2 separate regions of the Homo sapiens genome follow, and region 2 is linked to region 1. Evidence: fine-mapped expression QTL. Tissue or cell type: whole blood. Region 1 holds a variant in brackets; the other region holds the start of a gene. All regions are shown on one strand. Distances are from middle to middle.

Region 1 (8,000 bases):
TGCTGGGATTACGGGCGTGAGCCACCGCGCCCAGCCAGCAGTTGTTAATTTTAAGTGGAAGCTGCAAAACTGGTGAGTGGTGTCGCCCCATCAGGGAGCTGGGGAGCCCCGCTTGTCCTGGTGTGGGCTTGGGACCTGGCACCACGTTCCGAGAAAGATGCTGAGAGATCCAGACAGGCTTTTTCATCCTAAAATGAGGCCAGTTACAGAGAGTGTGCAGCGAGGGAATGTGAACTGAATCCTTGCCAGCCGTTTCCATTCTCAGTCACATCAGCCCATGTCTCCACTTGGCCATTTTTAGGTCCAGGGCTTTGTAGACACAGCTCCCTCCCTACACGCCGCATGCCACCATGCCTGGATAGATACCTGTTTTTTTCATAGAAACAGAGTCTCGCTATGTTACCCAGGCTGGTCTCAAACTCCTGGACTCAAGCAATCCGCCTGCTTTGGCCTCCCAAAGTGGTGGGATCAAAGGTGTGAGCCACCACGCCGGGCCAGTTTTCTGTTAACTTAAAACACAATATCTAAAACTGGGTAATTTATAAAGAAAAGGAATTTATTTCTTACAGCTCTGGAGGCTAAGTCTAAGGGTGAGGGGAGCATCCGAGGAGGCGTTCATGCTGGCGGGATTCTGAATGAGGAGGTATTCATGCTGGTGGGACTCCGAAGGGTCCTGAGGCGGCTCGGGGCAGCCATGGTGAGGGCCCAGCATGCGGGCTCAGGCCTCAGGCCTCTCCTCCTCCTCTTATAAAGCCACCAGTTCCACTCCCGTGATAACCCAGGAATCCATGAATGGATTAATCCCTCCAGTGGGGCAGGATCCTCACCCCCCGGGCACGTCCCAAGGCCCCACCTTGAAACGCCGCAGCATGGTGATGGAATTCCAGCGTGTTTCAGAGGGACACACTTTAAATTATAGCAGCCGCCCTCCCACAGAAGGGACAGGCCGACTGCCCCCTTCCCAGGCTGATCAGCAAAGTGAGTGCCATCGGGGCCTTGTACAAGTTCATCCTGAGCTCAGGGATAAAAACAGCCCTGCAGACTTGTGGAGAGGGGCTGACCCAGCCTGATGGTGAGAGACAAGCTGCGCCCGGGTCCTGGGCCTGTGCGCCCGCTGGCCTGGCTTCCCTGTACAGGGTGGGTCTGTCCATTCCGATTGGCTCGAGGCTCCACCTTTTTTAAAGAGGATCTTGGAACTCACAGCCCACTCAAGGGACGCAGATAAAAGGCCCCCAGTCTCAGATTTGGGGTTACCATTGGTCTGAGGGGCCGGTTCAGCTGTGCTGGACGTCCCTGGAGGGCCTTGCTGAGCAGCTGGGGGGAGGTGTGGGGGCCGTAGGGGCTGCTGTCTCCCCCAGAGCCCTCTTTTTTTTTTTTTTTTTTTGAGGCAGAGTCTCACTCTATCGCCCAGGCTGGAGTGTAGTGGTGCGATCTCGGCTCACTGCAAGCTCCACCTCCCGGGTTCACGCCATTCACCTGCCTCAGCCTCCGGAGTAGCTGGGACTACAGGCGCCCGCCACCACGCCCGGCAAATTTTTATATTTTTAGTAGAGACGGGGTTTCACCGTGTTAACCAGGATGGTCTCGATCTCCTGACCTCGTGATCCTCCCGCCTCAGCTTCCCAAAGTGCTGGGATTACAGGCGTGAGCGACCATGCCCGGCCCCCCCACCCCAAAGCCCTCTTAAAAGCCCCTTGGGAGCTTTGGGGCACGTGCAGGGCCGGCCAAATGTTGGAGGAGACACATCCAGGCGCCCAGAGGAAGAGTCACTGTTGGGTTTTAGTAAAACACCCACGCAGCGCAGTCGAACGTGAGGAGGAGGGGCTGGGCTTCAGAGCTTTCTGGAGACACAGCAAGGAGGTTGGGCCAGGGAGACCCTTGGAGGCCTGAGGCTGGGAGACCACAGGAGGCATGAGGGTGGGAGATCCCCAGAGGCATGAGGCTGGGGAGACCCCCGGAGGCGTGAGGCTGGAAAACCCCTGGAGGCTTGAGGCTCCGCATTTGTGTGCTGCGGGGCCTGGGGTGTCCATGGTGCCCAAGGGGAAAGCCCCCTCCGGCCTCCCCCCAGACCCTTTGCTGTGCCCCTCCCGCCTCCCGCCTCCCGCGTGTGTCCTTGGGTCCAGCCGGCGCATCCAAGACCTCGAATGCCTGTGGACCCGTGGGCTCCAGTGACGGAAGCACTGGGCACTTCTCCCACTCCAGCTGGGCCGTCTTCAGAACCAGGCCAGGAGCCGCTGCGTTGGGGTTTATGCTTGGATGGTGGACGGCCGTGGGTGTGTCTGGGGGGCCGCACTCTGGGGTCTGGAGCTGCGTCTCCATCCTTCCCTGTCAGGGACCCTCTGAAGGGCCTGCGGGCCACCAGTCACCCTCCCTTAGCCAAGGGATCCCGGGAGATGGGGGCGGGGACGCTGGGTTCTGGGTTGTGGGGCTGGCAGGGCAGAGCCCGAGAGCGGCCAGACCTGCCCTTTGCACGGCACAGAGGCCCCCAGGAAAGGGCCTGCGGTGAGCCGGGGGCAGATGGCCCCTTGGGGGCCAGGACCTCAGGTGGGTGGGCTTCGCGGGGGAGCAGTCACCTCTGCGGTATTTAGGGCAGGCGGACAGAGGTGGAGGGGCCGCCCCGTGTTCGCCGCGGCCGCCGGGCTGGGCTCTGCCTGCAGCGCTGGCCTGGTGGGAAACGGAGACCCAGCCTGGGCGTGCGGGTAGGGGAGGCGCCTGGGACCGACGCGGCTGAGACGGAGGAGGCGCTGCCGGGTTCCACCAGCAGAGGGGCCCAGAGACCGGCCCGGACGCGCGGCGGTCGGCGTGGGGTGCCCGGGACTGGCTGCTCCGCAGGCCGCCCCCGCCCGCCCGCTCCGGTGCCTCTGTGAACGGGCGGGTTTGCTGGCGAGCGTTCTGGCCTCCACCACTCCGGGTGCAGCAGATGCGGGGCCTTCCCGGTCACAGGACCCTGGGACGCTGGGAGGCAGTGTTGGCTCCGCACCTCTCTCGGAGCCTGACGGCCTGGCTGGGGCTGCCCCGTCGGGTCCCCGCAGCGCGCAAGGCCGTCCCCAGCCTGCTGAGGGGGGACGGGCTGCACTCCTGGAAGGGAGGGGTGGGGGCTGAGGAGCGGCCTGGGGTGGGGGTCGGGACACAGACACCCCAGAGGAGGGCTGGGGAGAGGGTCTACCGCCCACTGAGGCTGTGGCCGGGGGAGTACTGAGAGCCCAGGGAAGTTTCCAGAAGCCGCTGGGAGTGCCCGTGGGAATGGAGGTGGTGGTGGGGGACCTGCTGCCTTTATTCATTTGCTCATCAGACACCATCAGCGCCACTAATGCCGCTGCCGTCTGGGGGTCGAGGGGTGCGTTGGTGCAGGAAGCCAAGTCCACCCTCCAGACGGCCACGGGGCACGCCAGGGGCAGGAGTGTTGGCCAAGAGCAGCCGTCGCCTCTGCCGTTTGGGACAAGACAAACAGAGGTGGAGCGGCCTCCTGTCAGGGCCTCCCTGTGCGATGGGGGTGTCACGAGGCTCACCCCGCCCTGGCTGCACTCAGCCCCCAGCTCTCAGCTCCAGATAACTTGCTGCCAGCCACCCTGGTTCTGTGCAGGGGCCTCATTTTTCTTTCTTTTCTTTTTCTTTTTCTTTTCTTTTTCTTTTTTTTTTCCTTTTTCCTTGCCTTTTATTTTCTTTCTTTTCCTTTCCTTTTCTTTTCTTTTCTTTCTTTTCTTTTTCTTTTTTGGAAACAGGGTCTTGCTCTGTCACCCAGGCTAGAATGCAGTGGCCCAATCTTGGGTCACCGCAGCCTTGACCTCCTGGGCTCAAGCGGTCCTCCCACCTCAGCCTCCTGAGTAGCTGGGACTACAGGTGCATGTTACCACGCCCAGCTGATTTTTTTTTTCATAGGATGGGGTCTCACTATGTTGCCCAGGCTGGTCTCAAACTCCTGAGCTCAAGTGATCCTCCCGCCTCGGCCTCCCACAAGGCTGGGATTACAGGCGTGAGCCACCGTGCCCAGCCAGTTTCACGTTTTATTCACTCTTCAGAGCACAGAGGCCTCTGCCTGGCATTGGGGCACGGGCAAGGTGTCTGTGGGCAGCGGGTCCCACCAAGGGTTCCAGG[G/A]CAGCAGATGGTAGGCAGGGCGGGGAGACCATGTGCATGGTACCCACCCCTGTGCCGGCCGGCAGGAGAAGCCAGGCTCATGCTGAGTCAGGCTAACTCTAACATTTATCAGGAACTTGATCTACTTCAATGTGATGTAAGAAAATCAAATGTGCTTTCAGCAGAAGATCCAGGGAGGAAACCAACAATAGAGAGAAATGGTGGCTTCTGCTGCCTTACAGAGTGGGAGCTGTGCCTGAGCCTTCTGCCTCTCAGCCCAGAGCCTGGCATTTCTTGAACCATGAGACGTAAAGTTTATTGTTGAGAGCCTGAGAAACTGTGGATGCTGGGGACGGGTGAGTGGCTGGGGACGGGTGAGTGGCCTGCGACGGCCGCCCTGGGCTCCGTCCGCGGCTCTGCAAATCCTTGGGCCACGGACACCAGCACGAATGAGTCCAGGACCTGTGTGGGGGGCCCACCCTGCCCCCGTTGGTCCTGTGGTCCAGGGGTCCCCAGGGAGCAGTTGGGGAAGCAGCGGGGGTTGGGGCTCTGGCCCCTGCTCTGGCCCTGGGTGCCCACCGCCTTCCCCCGGGGGTGCTGGCCCAGCCCTCTGTGGGTCAGAGCCCACTGTGCCGGACCCCAGCGCAGTTAGGAGGTCCAAGGGTGGGATGTGCGGATGTGCGGGGCTCCCAAGTAGGGTCTTTGGACACCCGCTGGCAGAGGCCCTGGGAATTTGGGAATGGCCACTGGCTCACCTGTGGGAAAGCACTGTGTCCCCTCCCAGCCCCTGGCTCACCTGTGAGACAGCACGTGTCCCCTCCCAGCACCCGGCTCGCCTGGGGGATAGCACTGTGTCCCCTCGAGCACCTGGGAGGGCTGTGGCAACAGCTCTGAGGGGATAGGTAGGGGCTGAGGCAGATGAGGTGGCACTGGGAGCAAGGAGGAGACAGGCGTGGCCAGGAGGGGACTGTGGCTTTTAGTGATTTTTTTTTTTTTAAGACAGAGCTTCACTCTTGTTGCCCAGGCTGGAGTGCAATGGTGCGACCTTGGCTCACTGCAACCTCTGCCTCCCGGGTTCAAGCATTTCTCCTGCCTCAGCCTCCCAAGTAGCTGAGATTAGAGGCATGTGCCACCACGCCCAGCTAATTTTATATTTTTAGTAGAAATGGGGTTTCTCCATGTTGGTCAGGCTGGTCTCGAACTCCCGACCTCAGGTGATCCTCCGGCCTTGGCCTCCCAAAGTGCTGGGATTATAGGCATGAGCCACCGCGCCTGGCCGGCTTTTAGTGATTTTTTTTGCATGATTTTTCAGAATTTGCAAATGTAGTTTTCCAAATATTGTATTACATGCATAATTGCCTTTATAGGCAGCTGAGGCAATAAAAAGCAAATAAAAGTGGAGAGTGGTAGAGTGAGGAGACTGGGACGAGACCTGCTTTGATCCTGGCTGAGCTCAGTTTTCTCATCTGGGAGATGGGCACGCCTCTTTCATGAAGGCGGAGGGAATAGTGTGCAGAGGCCTTGTGGGCTCCCTGACCCTTCCCCAAGAGCTGGCGTGGGGAGCCTCTGCCTCTGTTGGGGAAGGACCCGCGATCTGCTGTGGGCTGAGTTGTTTCCCCCCAAATTCCCATGTTGAAGCCCTAGGCGCCATGTCACTGTATTTGGAGATGGGGTCTTGGCAGAGGTAAAATGAGGTCGTTGGGGTGGGCCCTAATCCAGTAGGACTGGTGTCACCACAAGAAGGGGAGATCAGGACACAGACGCACATGGGGGGACCCGTGAGGACCCAGGGAGGAGACCCAGGGAGTGGGGCCCACCCTCCCCACCCAGTCTCAGAGCTGCAGCCTCGGGACAGTGAGGACACACGTCCCTGTCACTCGCGCCCTGTGTGTGGTGCTTTGTACGGCCCTGGAGGACACTCCACATCCTTCGGGGTCTATGCAGAGATGGCGTGGGGGTGTGACTGCCCCGCCTCGGGACCCATCCCTATCCCACAGGTCTGTCTTCCCCTTCATTTCCTGGTGAAGAGCCCAGGCTGGGGCATCCACGGTTCTGGGCATGGTGGAGAGGGCCTTCTGAGAAGGGCAGCGACCACTTTCTGGAGCCCTTGGAAGCTGGCGGTGGGCTCTGCGTGGCTGGGTCTGCCCTGCTGGGAGGAGCCCTAAGACCCTGGATCTCGGGCCTGCTGGTCCATCTCCCCCAAGGCCAATTAAGGTGACAGCAAAAGAATTAAAAAGGCAAAACCCCTTAGGGGCAAAGAGAAGGAGAGAGGCGAAAACTGGGGGGCTCGGGAATGGAGGCCCAGGTTTCCTGGGTACGGGCGTCTGGAGGGCTGAAACGGACCTGGGGCGGCCTTCATGGGGTGCTGCCAGACCCTGCGGCCCCCGACCCTCGGAGACCCTGGGCCAGGGTGTGCTGGCTGCTGCTGCTGCTGGGCTGGGGGTGGGGAGGGCTACAGAGGAACGGGGTCTGCAGCTCCCTGCCTGTGCCCCCAAACTCAGTGGCTGGCAGGTGCGGCTGGGAGGGCTTTTTCCTGGACAGACCAGCCGGGAGGAGACGCGTTCGGGTCTGCATCTTCTGGGGCCCCTCAGGTCACTCACAGTGGGGCCCCACTCCTGGGGTGCCCCCAACCCATTTCCAAGCAGATGACTAGTGCCTCACTTTCAGATATGCATAGCAGTCCCCACACTGCCATGGAGGGGAGAGGGGTCAGCGCCGGGGATCCTGCAGGAAATGAGCCAAGCCGAGCCACAGGGTCTCCCGTGGCGGGTGATATGCTTTGGCTGTGTCCTCACCCACATCTCAACTTGAATTGTATCTCCCAGAATTCCCACCTGTTGTGGGAGGGACCCAGGGGGCAGTAATTGAATCCTGGGGCCGGTCTTTCCCATGCTGTTCTCATGGTAGTGAATATGACTCACGAGATCTGATGGCTTTATCAGGGTTTCCACTTTTGGTTCCTCATTTTCTCTTGCTGCCACCATGTAAGAAGTGCCTTTCGCCTTCCACCGTGATTCTGAGGCCTCCCCAGCCATGTGGAAATGTGAGTCCAATTAAACTTGTTTTTGTTCTGAGTCTCAGGTATGTGTTTATCAGCAGCGTGAAAACGGGCTAACGCAGTAAATTGGTACCAGTGGAGTGGGGTATTGCTGAAAAGATACCCAAAAATGTGGAAGCGACTTGGAACTGGGTAACAGGCAGAGGTTGGAACAGTTTGGAGGGCTCAGAAGACAAGAAGATGTGGGAAGGTTTGGAACCTCCTAGAGACTTGTTGAATAGCTTTGACAAAAATGCTGATAGTGTTATGAACAATAATGTCCAGGCTGAGATGGTCTCAAATGGAGATGGGGAACTTGTTGAGAACTGAAGCAAAGGTGACTCTTGTTATCTTTTAGCAAAGAGACTGGCAGCATTTTGTGCCTGTCCTAGAGATTTATGGAACTTTGACCTTGAGAGAGAGATGATTTAGGGTATCTGGTGGAAGAAATCTCTAAGCAGCAAAGCATTCAAAAGCTGACTTGGATGCTGTTAAAAGCATTCTGGGACCAGGCACAATGGCTCACACCTGTAATCCCCACACTTTGGGAGGCTGAGACGGGCGGATCACGAGGTCAGGAGTTCAAGACCGGCCTGACCAATATGGTGAAACCACATCTCTACTAAAAATACAAAAATTAGCCGGGCGTGGTGGCACGCACCTGTAATCCCAGCTACTCAGGAGGCTGAGGCAAGAGAATCACTTGAACCAGAAAGGCAGAGGTTGCAGTGAGCCGAGATCACACCACTGCACTCCAGTCTGGTGACGGAGCAAGACTCCATCTCAAAAACAAAACTAAAAAAGAATTATGTTTAAAAAGGGAAACAGCATAAAAATTCAGAAAATGTGCAACCTGACGCAGTAGAAAAGAAAAACCAATTTTTTCAGG
Region 2 (8,000 bases), 54 kb before region 1:
CGTCCGCCCGCAGGACCTGTGGATTCCTTATTTCGCCATCACCACCGACATCACAGCCTCGGCCATGCGGGTCCACACCGACGGTGAGCACTCCTGCTGCGCAGGGCGGCCGCTTGGGTGCGAGGTGTGGGCAGGGGGAGAGCTCAGCAGCCCCAGGGGTTGGGAAGGCCGCGGGGTCTCCTGAAGGATGCAGACGTATGGGCAGCTTTGTCCATGGAGGACACAGGATGCCCCTACTAGGGGCACAGACAGGAGGGGGCGTGGCCTGGGCCAGAGACCTCAGAAGGCTGGAGGAGACCCTCACAGAATCAGCAATGTTGGGCTAGACTGATGGATACCATGTGAGAGGACAAAGTGAGGGGCTCCCTGAGTCCTGGGGTGAGGGGCTCACCTGGTTCAGGGGGATGAGGGGTTCACTCGGTCATGGGGTGAGGGGCTCCCTCAGTCCTGGGGTGAGGGGGTCACAGCAGTTCGAAGTCCTGGGCACATGTAATGCAGTGCGACCCCAGAGAAAGAACTCAATTTTGTTCAGCCCTTGGGCCATGAGCTTCCCTCTGTGGAGGCGGCCTCAGAGAGTTGGGACCTACCAGCTCCAGGACTGCAGTGGCAAGGCCCTGAACCCTGGACCCAGGAGGAGCCTCCTCCGGGTAACCAGCAGCTCCGGGCCCCCTCCCCAGGCTCCCTGTGGTGGTACGTGCGTGCCAGCATGTCCCTGTCCGGTTACATGCCCCCTCTCTGTGACCCGAAGGACGGACACCTGCTGATGGACGGGGGCTACATCAACAACCTCCCAGGTACTGCGGTGGGGGGACCACGCCCGGCAGGAGCACAGGCTCCTGGGTCACGCCGCCCCACGGCCCCTGCCACAGCTGCCTCCGCTCCAAGAAGCCTGGGCTGGAACACGTTTTCCTTAGAGTATGCCAAGGGAAAATGTCAGGCTGGCATCAGAGCTCCGAGAACATGCACACGCGTGTACATGCACACGCAGGCACCGGCAGCATGTGCTCCAGCATATGGCCCTGTTTGTCAGCTCAGCAGCATGCAGAACAAAGGCCAAGTCGAGGAACTGGGAGCAATTAAGCCCCATCTGTGCCCACAGTCAGAAACTAACAGCCTGCAGGTGTCGAGCTTGCTGGGGGCCAGGCCAGGCCACTCCTGTCACCTGTGGGATATACGGTCAGAAAGGCCCAGGACACAGCCGTGTGCCCACAGCTGCCCATCGAGCTGGGCATGTGGGTCTTCTGCCTCTAGAAGGTGTAATGGCGGAGAGGAGACCCCACAACCCCCACGTCAGGGCTCGGAGAGGCAGGCTCTGCCCCCGTCCCCTGGCTCTGCATGCCTGTCCAGGGGGTAACCAGGGCTGGCTTCTCCCTAGCGGATGTGGCCCGGTCCATGGGGGCAAAAGTGGTGATCGCCATTGACGTGGGCAGCCGAGATGAGACGGACCTCACCAACTATGGGGATGCGCTGTCTGGGTGGTGGCTGCTGTGGAAACGCTGGAACCCCTTGGCCACGAAAGTCAAGGTGGGGTGCTACCGGGCAGGCTGGGCTGTCCCTGCTGCTCCTCCCTGCAGCTCCACACCTGTCCTGCGGCAGGGGAGTGGGGGTCGCTCCTGGGCTCTGAGGCCAGCAGGTCTGGGGCCACCCCTCACCACCCCTGCCTGAGCCCAACTCGGGCGAAGGAAGGCACGAGGCCGGACGGGCCTGAAGGCTGTGGCAGCCCGCAGGGAGGACCCCCGGCCGGGTGCTGCTACCCTCTCCCCCCAGAACCTACCTACCCCAGAGGATGGGTCCCCAGAACCTGTCCTGCGCCACGGGCCAGGCTGGGACGGGGTAGGGGCCGGGGCAGGAGACTCAGGCGGCTGTGACGGCAGCAGGTGTTGAACATGGCAGAGATTCAGACGCGCCTGGCCTACGTGTGTTGCGTGCGGCAGCTGGAGGTGGTGAAGAGCAGTGACTACTGCGAGTACCTGCGCCCCCCCATCGACAGCTACAGCACCCTGGACTTCGGCAAGTTCAACGAGATCTGCGTGAGTGCCGGCCACCCGCGGCGGCGGAGGCGGGCGGAGGCACTCTGGTGGCTGCCCCTCCTCGCTTCCCCCTTTTGAGAACACAGGAAGTGGGGGGCTCCCCACACCTCCTGACGGGGCCCTGGGGGTGTGCACAGGAAGTGGGCTACCAGCACGGGCGCACGGTGTTTGACATCTGGGGCCGCAGCGGCGTGCTGGAGAAGATGCTCCGCGACCAGCAGGGGCCGAGCAAGAAGCCCGCGAGTGCGGTGAGTACGGGCGTCCGGACCACGCCCAGCTCCCCGGACCGCGCCCAGTTCTTCGGGCCACGCCCACGCCCAGTTCATCAGGCCACGCCCAGCTCCTCAGGCCACAGGCCCTGCCCCCCTGGCCAAAGACTCCAGGGCCAGGACAAGGATTGCTCAGGACTGCGCATCTCCCCGGTCCCTGCCCTTACTTGGGGGGCAGGCGGAGGCTGCAGAGAGGGCGCAGGGTGGGTGGGGCCTCCCCACAGGAAGCAGGCTGGGGACTGGCAGGCGGGTGTCCACAGGCAACGTGCTGTCCTCACCCCACCCCTAGGTCCTCACCTGTCCCAACGCCTCCTTCACGGACCTTGCCGAAATTGTGTCTCGCATTGAGCCCGCCAAGCCCGCCATGGTGGATGGTGAGTGGAGGCGCAAGACGAAGCCGTGGAGACGTGCGTGACCTCCTGATGCTGTGTTGGGCTTGAACCCCCCCACCCCAGAGGCCCACGGCCTCCCCTCCCGCCCACGTCCACGCCCAGGCTCCAGCAGCTGGGGTGCTTGGTGGCACTCCTCCGTCCCGGGCACCACGTGTTCCCACAGCAGTGGGACTGTGACCACCCCGGGTCACCCAGCCCCTGCCCTTCATTCACCTCAACTCCCAGCCACACCTCAGGCCTGAAGTAGAACCACGTTTTGCCTCCCACCCCACCCAGTGGGAAATGGGAATGAAGGCTGCTTGTTGGAGGGGCCGCAGGACAAGAAGGGCGGGTCCACTACCCTCCATGCTCCATCCAGGGCCCTGCGCTTGGGCCTTCAGCCAGTGGCCTCCTCACAGCAGAACTGGACATTCTCCTGGGAGACGTCTTCATGGCTGCCGCAGGCCGAGAGGGCCCTGGGCAAGGCAGCCCCTATCCACAGTTGCCAGGTCTGGGGTGCTGGAGCCCTCAGGGTGCTTGGCTGACAAGGGGAGGAGTGTCTGCCCGCTCCTTGTCCTTGTGGAAGACCCACGAAGTGATGTGCTGGGGCAAAGCTGGAGCCAGACAGAACCAGGGGTGGTGTGCAGGGCTGCCCTGGGACCAGGTGGCTGCGTGTAGGGCCCCGGGCCACCTTGGAGGCGGGGGTGGGCATCTGTGGCCGGTTCTGCCTCTGAGTGTGGCTATGCTGGGTACGGTCCCTTCCTTGGGAGGGGACTGACGCAGCCCTACCCTCGGTGCCAGACGAATCTGACTACCAGACGGAGTACGAGGAGGAGCTGCTGGACGTCCCCAGGGATGCATACGCAGACTTCCAGAGCACCTCAGCCCAGCAGGGCTCAGACTTGGTGAGGAGCTGGGCATGGTCCCACCTGGTGCCCACAGCTGAGCCTTGGTGCCTGGCCCTGTGCCGGCCACTCCCTCCCTGTGGTCCCACCGGGTTACCAGCGCTGCAGAGCCCCTGCCCTGCCTGGTCCTCACCTGGAACATGCGGTCTGCTTGCAGGAGGACGAGTCCTCACTGCGGCATCGACACCCCAGTCTGGCTTTCCCAAAACTGTCTGAGGGCTCCTCTGACCAGGACGGGTAGAGGCCTCTGCTAAAGAGCCCGGATGCAGCGTCTTCCGTGGGACTGTCCCCAAGGCTGAGGCTCCTGCCAAGTCCTAGGGGCCTCTGTACCTGCCCTGCTGGAAGCCCTGACTTCCCCGGGGCCCCAGGCTGTGTTAGGGTTCTCTGGGCCTCTTCTTTGTACCAGCAGCCCTGCATACAGGGCCCTGTGAGCCCCCCTGCAGTCCTGTGAGGCCCCTGAAGCTCTGTGAGGCCCCTGAAGCTCTGTGAACCCCCTGCAGCCCTGTGAGGCCCCCCGAAGCCCTGTGAGGCCCCCCGAAGCCCTGTGAACCACCTGCTGCCCTGTGAGGCCCCCAAAGCCCTGTGAACTGCCTGCTGTCCTGTGAACTGCCTGCTGCCCTGTGAGGTGTGGGAGCCCTGATGCTGCCGTGTGATGTTTCAATAAAGGTGGATCTCACTGTTGGACGTGTCTCCCGGGCCGAGGTCCCTGTGGCAAAGAAACACTACTGGTTCTCCCTGATGCGGGTGGTCCCTGAGGCTGGGCAGTCCCCAGTCCTCCTCAAAGGACCCCACTGCTGGGGCCTGAGAGCCCTAGGGCGGCAAATGCAGGCCAGGCAGGTAGGGCGTCCAGAGTCTGCATAGAGCTGTGGCCCCCCAGGACCAGGACGGGCCCCTCTGTCTCTCTCTGGCCTCGTGCAAACTGGGTGCCCCCTAAACTGGCTTCCCCTTCGGTTTCCAGTTCCCAAACTGCACAGGGAGCCCTTTTGTGTAAGGGGAGGGAGAACCGGCCTCCCTGTGATCCTGCAGGTCTGAGCAGCAGATCGTGAGGGCCGAGGGCCCAGGACTTTGCGACCAGGGGGCCGCTGGCCTCAGTTTCCCCGCTCTGGAGGCCTGGACGAGAGGGCGCGGAGCCAGGCCGCCCGGCCCCGCCCCCAACTCAACCCGGGCCCGGACGTCACGGTGGGCGGGGCCACATGTCCTCTCCGAGCTCTCCGGGGCCCTGACGTCACGGTAGGTGGGGCCGACCGCCCCTCTGGGCCCGCCCGGGCCCTGACGTCACGATGGGCGGGGCCGGCCCTCGGTTCGGGCAGCGCTCTCCCGGGAGCGGCGGCACGCGCGGAGCGCCGGGTGCGGCCATGCGGGGACCGGGCCCGACCCCGAGCCCGACCCCGAGCCCAAGCCCGAGCCGGAGCCCGAGCGAGACCCCGAGCCCGAGCCCGAGCGCGACCCCCGGTGCGGCGCGGCTACCCCGGCGGAGGCGGCGGGCGCGGGGCGCGCTCTGAGGCCCGGGGGATGCGCCGCCGCCTCGACCATGGGCGCCGCCGCCTCCAGGAGGAGGGCGCTGAGGAGCGAGGCCATGTCCTCGGTGGCGGCCAAAGTGCGGTGAGTGCGGCGGGGCCGCCTTCCCGCACCCCGCCCTGGACCTCCGACCCCGCCCGAGTCCGCCCCTGCCCCGCGGTGCTCCCCGGGCTCCCGGGCCCCGGCCTCTGCCACTGAGGCGCCCTCCCCGCGCCCCGCGCCTCCCTCTTCCTGGTCCCCTGCCCTGCTCTTCCCTCCCCTCCCCTCGCGAGCGCGTGGTGGGCGAGCGCACCCCCCAGGTCGGGAGTGGCCTCGGTTCCCCCGGGGAACAGCAGCCGACCGGCCTCGCGACCCCTCTCCACGGTCCGACGGGCAGGGGCCGGGCCTGCAGGCCTGGCCAGGGCGCACCAGGACCAAGGGTGTGTGGGCTCCCGGAGGGGGACGACCCCGACCCTCCTTCCAGACGCCGAGGGCCTGGCTGGGGACCGGACCCCCGGCTCTTGCGCGGCCCGGTGTTTGGGAGGGTCGTGCCGTGGCCTCTGACCGTGCCCTCTGTCCACCCTCAGAGCAGCCCGAGCGTTTGGAGAGTACCTGTCCCAGAGTCACCCTGAGAACCGCAACGGCGCAGGTAGGGGCACGCGAGGCCGTGCCAGGGCCGCCCAGACCCCCCAGCCCAAGGGATGCTGATCCCTGCCTCCGGGGGTGGAGCGTGAGGGGCATTGGTTGCGCGTGGGCCCGGCGCCCTGCCGGCCTGGCTTCCTTACATCCCCTGCCCTCCCTGCCCGAGCCCCAGGAGCAGTTCCCAGCCGCTCGTCACCATGGCACCCACCCCGCCTGGGCCGTTGGCATGGCAACAGGCCTCCTGGCTCCCCCAGGGCTGGCACCACTGCCTCTGGGGGCCAGCTGGTGGGGGGAGGGGGAAGTTGGCACCAGGCAAACGGTGCGATCGCAGGCTGGGGGATGGCCTGCGTGTTCCTACCCGGCAGGACCGCACACAGGTAGCACAGCGTCACCCAGCCCCCACGCACATGCTAGAGCTTCAGGCCCAGATAGGAGTGAGGGGCTCAGAAACACGCCAGTGACTAGGGTTTGGGCAGCCCTAGTCCCCCACAGAGGCCAGGTGCCCACTGGGTGTTCTCTGCCTTCGGCCTGCTATGAAACCGGCAGCGGGGGGCCCACACGCGGCAGGCAGGCTCACTCAGTGTCTCTCCTAGATCACCTGCTGGCTGATGCCTACTCTGGCCACGACGGGTCCCCCGAGATGCAGCCGGCCCCCCAGAACAAGCGCCGCCTGTCCCTCGTCTCCAACGGCTGCTACGAGGGCAGCCTCTCAGAGGAGCCCAGCATTAGGAAGCCCGCAGGCGAGGGCCCTCAGCCTCGAGTGTACACCATCTCTGGGGAGCCTGCCCTGCTGCCCAGCCCTGAGGCGGAGGCCATTGAGCTGGCGGTGGTGAAGGGGCGGCGGCAGCGGCACCCTCACCATCACAGCCAGCCCCTGCGCGCCAGCCCTGGTGGCAGCCGGGAGGACGTCAGCAGGCCCTGCCAGAGCTGGGCGGGCAGCCGCCAGGGCTCCAAGGAGTGCCCCGGATGTGCCCAGCTGGCTCCTGGCCCCACCCCTCGGGCCTTTGGGCTGGACCAGCCACCTCTGCCTGAGACCTCCGGTCGCCGCAAGAAGCTGGAGAGGATGTACAGCGTTGACCGTGTGTCTGGTGAGGGGTTTGTGTCAGGGCATAGACAGGTTTGGGGGTGCATGCCGCTGCCAGGGTCTGACAGCAGCAGCCACTGTGAGGCTTGGAACAGAGAACAGGTGCTCAGGTCACAGCATGCCAGCGGACTCAAGATTAAAACCGGCAGGCTTCTGCTGCGGCCTCCACACCCTATGAGCTGTGAGCTCCCTCAGCTCCTCAGCAAAATCTGCCAGGCCTCACAGTCCGCTTTCGCCCTGCTAGCACCAGGTCAATCAAGGAGTGCTTCCTGGAGGAGGGGGCCTGGGAGGATCTTAAGGGATATGTAGGGAGGAAGCACCGCTTAATCAGGAGACTGGGCTGCCCTCCGAGAGTCCTGGGGAGCTGTTGGGGCCCAGCCAGGCAGTGGGCATCTTTCCCCAGGGTTGTTGAGTTGTGTGGTAGCTTGTCCACCAGGCAGAAAGTCACTCCACTGTCCCCACACTTGGGCATCAGGGAAAGGCTGTGGGGGCCCTCGGAAGGGGACAGCCCTCAGCAAGGTGGTCTCTAGCCTCGGTGAGGGCCTCCAGCTAGAGCATGGGGGCTGCAGAGAAGGCCTCAGAGCCTCTTCTGCCCAAGGGAAACAGACGCATTGTTTTCCTGGGCCTCCTGGAGACAGACTGTGCTTTCAAAGGAATGTTTCTCAAACTTTGGGTGGCCAAAGGGAAAGTTAAGCCAAAAAAATCAAAGCGTCAAGTTACCAAGAGCGTGGTCTTGGTGAGTGAGCAGCAGACATTCGAGCACTGCCCTCTGTGCCCGTGTGGGGATGCCACCCTCCCCCCACCCGCCCTGGCTGCCAGCTTCTGCTGACCCCTGGACCCAGAAGCATCTGCTTCCCAACAGGGAGGGAGAGGCTTCAGGAACCCCTACTTCACCCAGCCACCGCTCCTTTTTGTCTCTCTTAGACGACATCCCTATTCGTACCTGGTTCCCCAAGGAAAATCTTTTCAGCTTCCAGACAGCAACCACAACTATGCAAGCGTGAGTCTTGTGCCCACGACTTGGGGTCAGGGTTGGGTGGTCTCTTTCTGCTGCTCAGGAAACAGCACTTTTTCCCAGTCTCTGGGCCTACCAGGGGGGCTGCTTCTGAACAGACCCACGTGCCTATGCTGTGCCAGGCCTGCCAGGGAGGCCAGGGCTGACTGCTCTTCCCCTCCCATGGCTGGTGCCCAGCCCCCCCCCC

The links. PIP is the estimated chance that this variant, and not a neighbour inherited with it, causes the effect.
Region 2: it holds the start of NSMF, and the variant in region 1 is fine-mapped to the expression of NSMF in whole blood (TOPMed, PIP above 0.99).

The regions. Positions count from the first base shown.
Region 1 is chr9:137,401,931-137,409,930 of GRCh38, reverse strand. The region is part of intron 1 of EXD3 (exonuclease 3'-5' domain containing 3); the gene reads left to right. Among named protein-coding and RNA genes, the nearest start is that of EXD3, 17 kb to the left of the region's middle. RefSeq lists silencers at 2,633-2,992, 3,033-3,112. The variant G/A (reference allele first, on the strand shown) is at 4,096.
Region 2 is chr9:137,456,209-137,464,208 of GRCh38, reverse strand. NSMF (NMDA receptor synaptonuclear signaling and neuronal migration factor) reads left to right here and starts at 4,875. Exons shown (of 16, transcript NM_001130969.3): 1 at 4,875-5,177; 2 at 5,660-5,721; 3 at 6,308-6,802; 4 at 7,723-7,798. The coding sequence starts at 5,107. It overlaps PNPLA7 (patatin like domain 7, lysophospholipase), which reads left to right. Exons shown (of 35, transcript NM_001098537.3): 28 at 14-83; 29 at 678-794; 30 at 1,376-1,524; 31 at 1,878-2,030; 32 at 2,168-2,278; 33 at 2,589-2,673; 34 at 3,472-3,575; 35 at 3,733-4,257. The coding sequence ends at 3,816. RefSeq lists enhancers at 1,304-2,236, 2,237-3,170, 5,994-6,691 and silencers at 4,645-4,994, 5,085-5,354.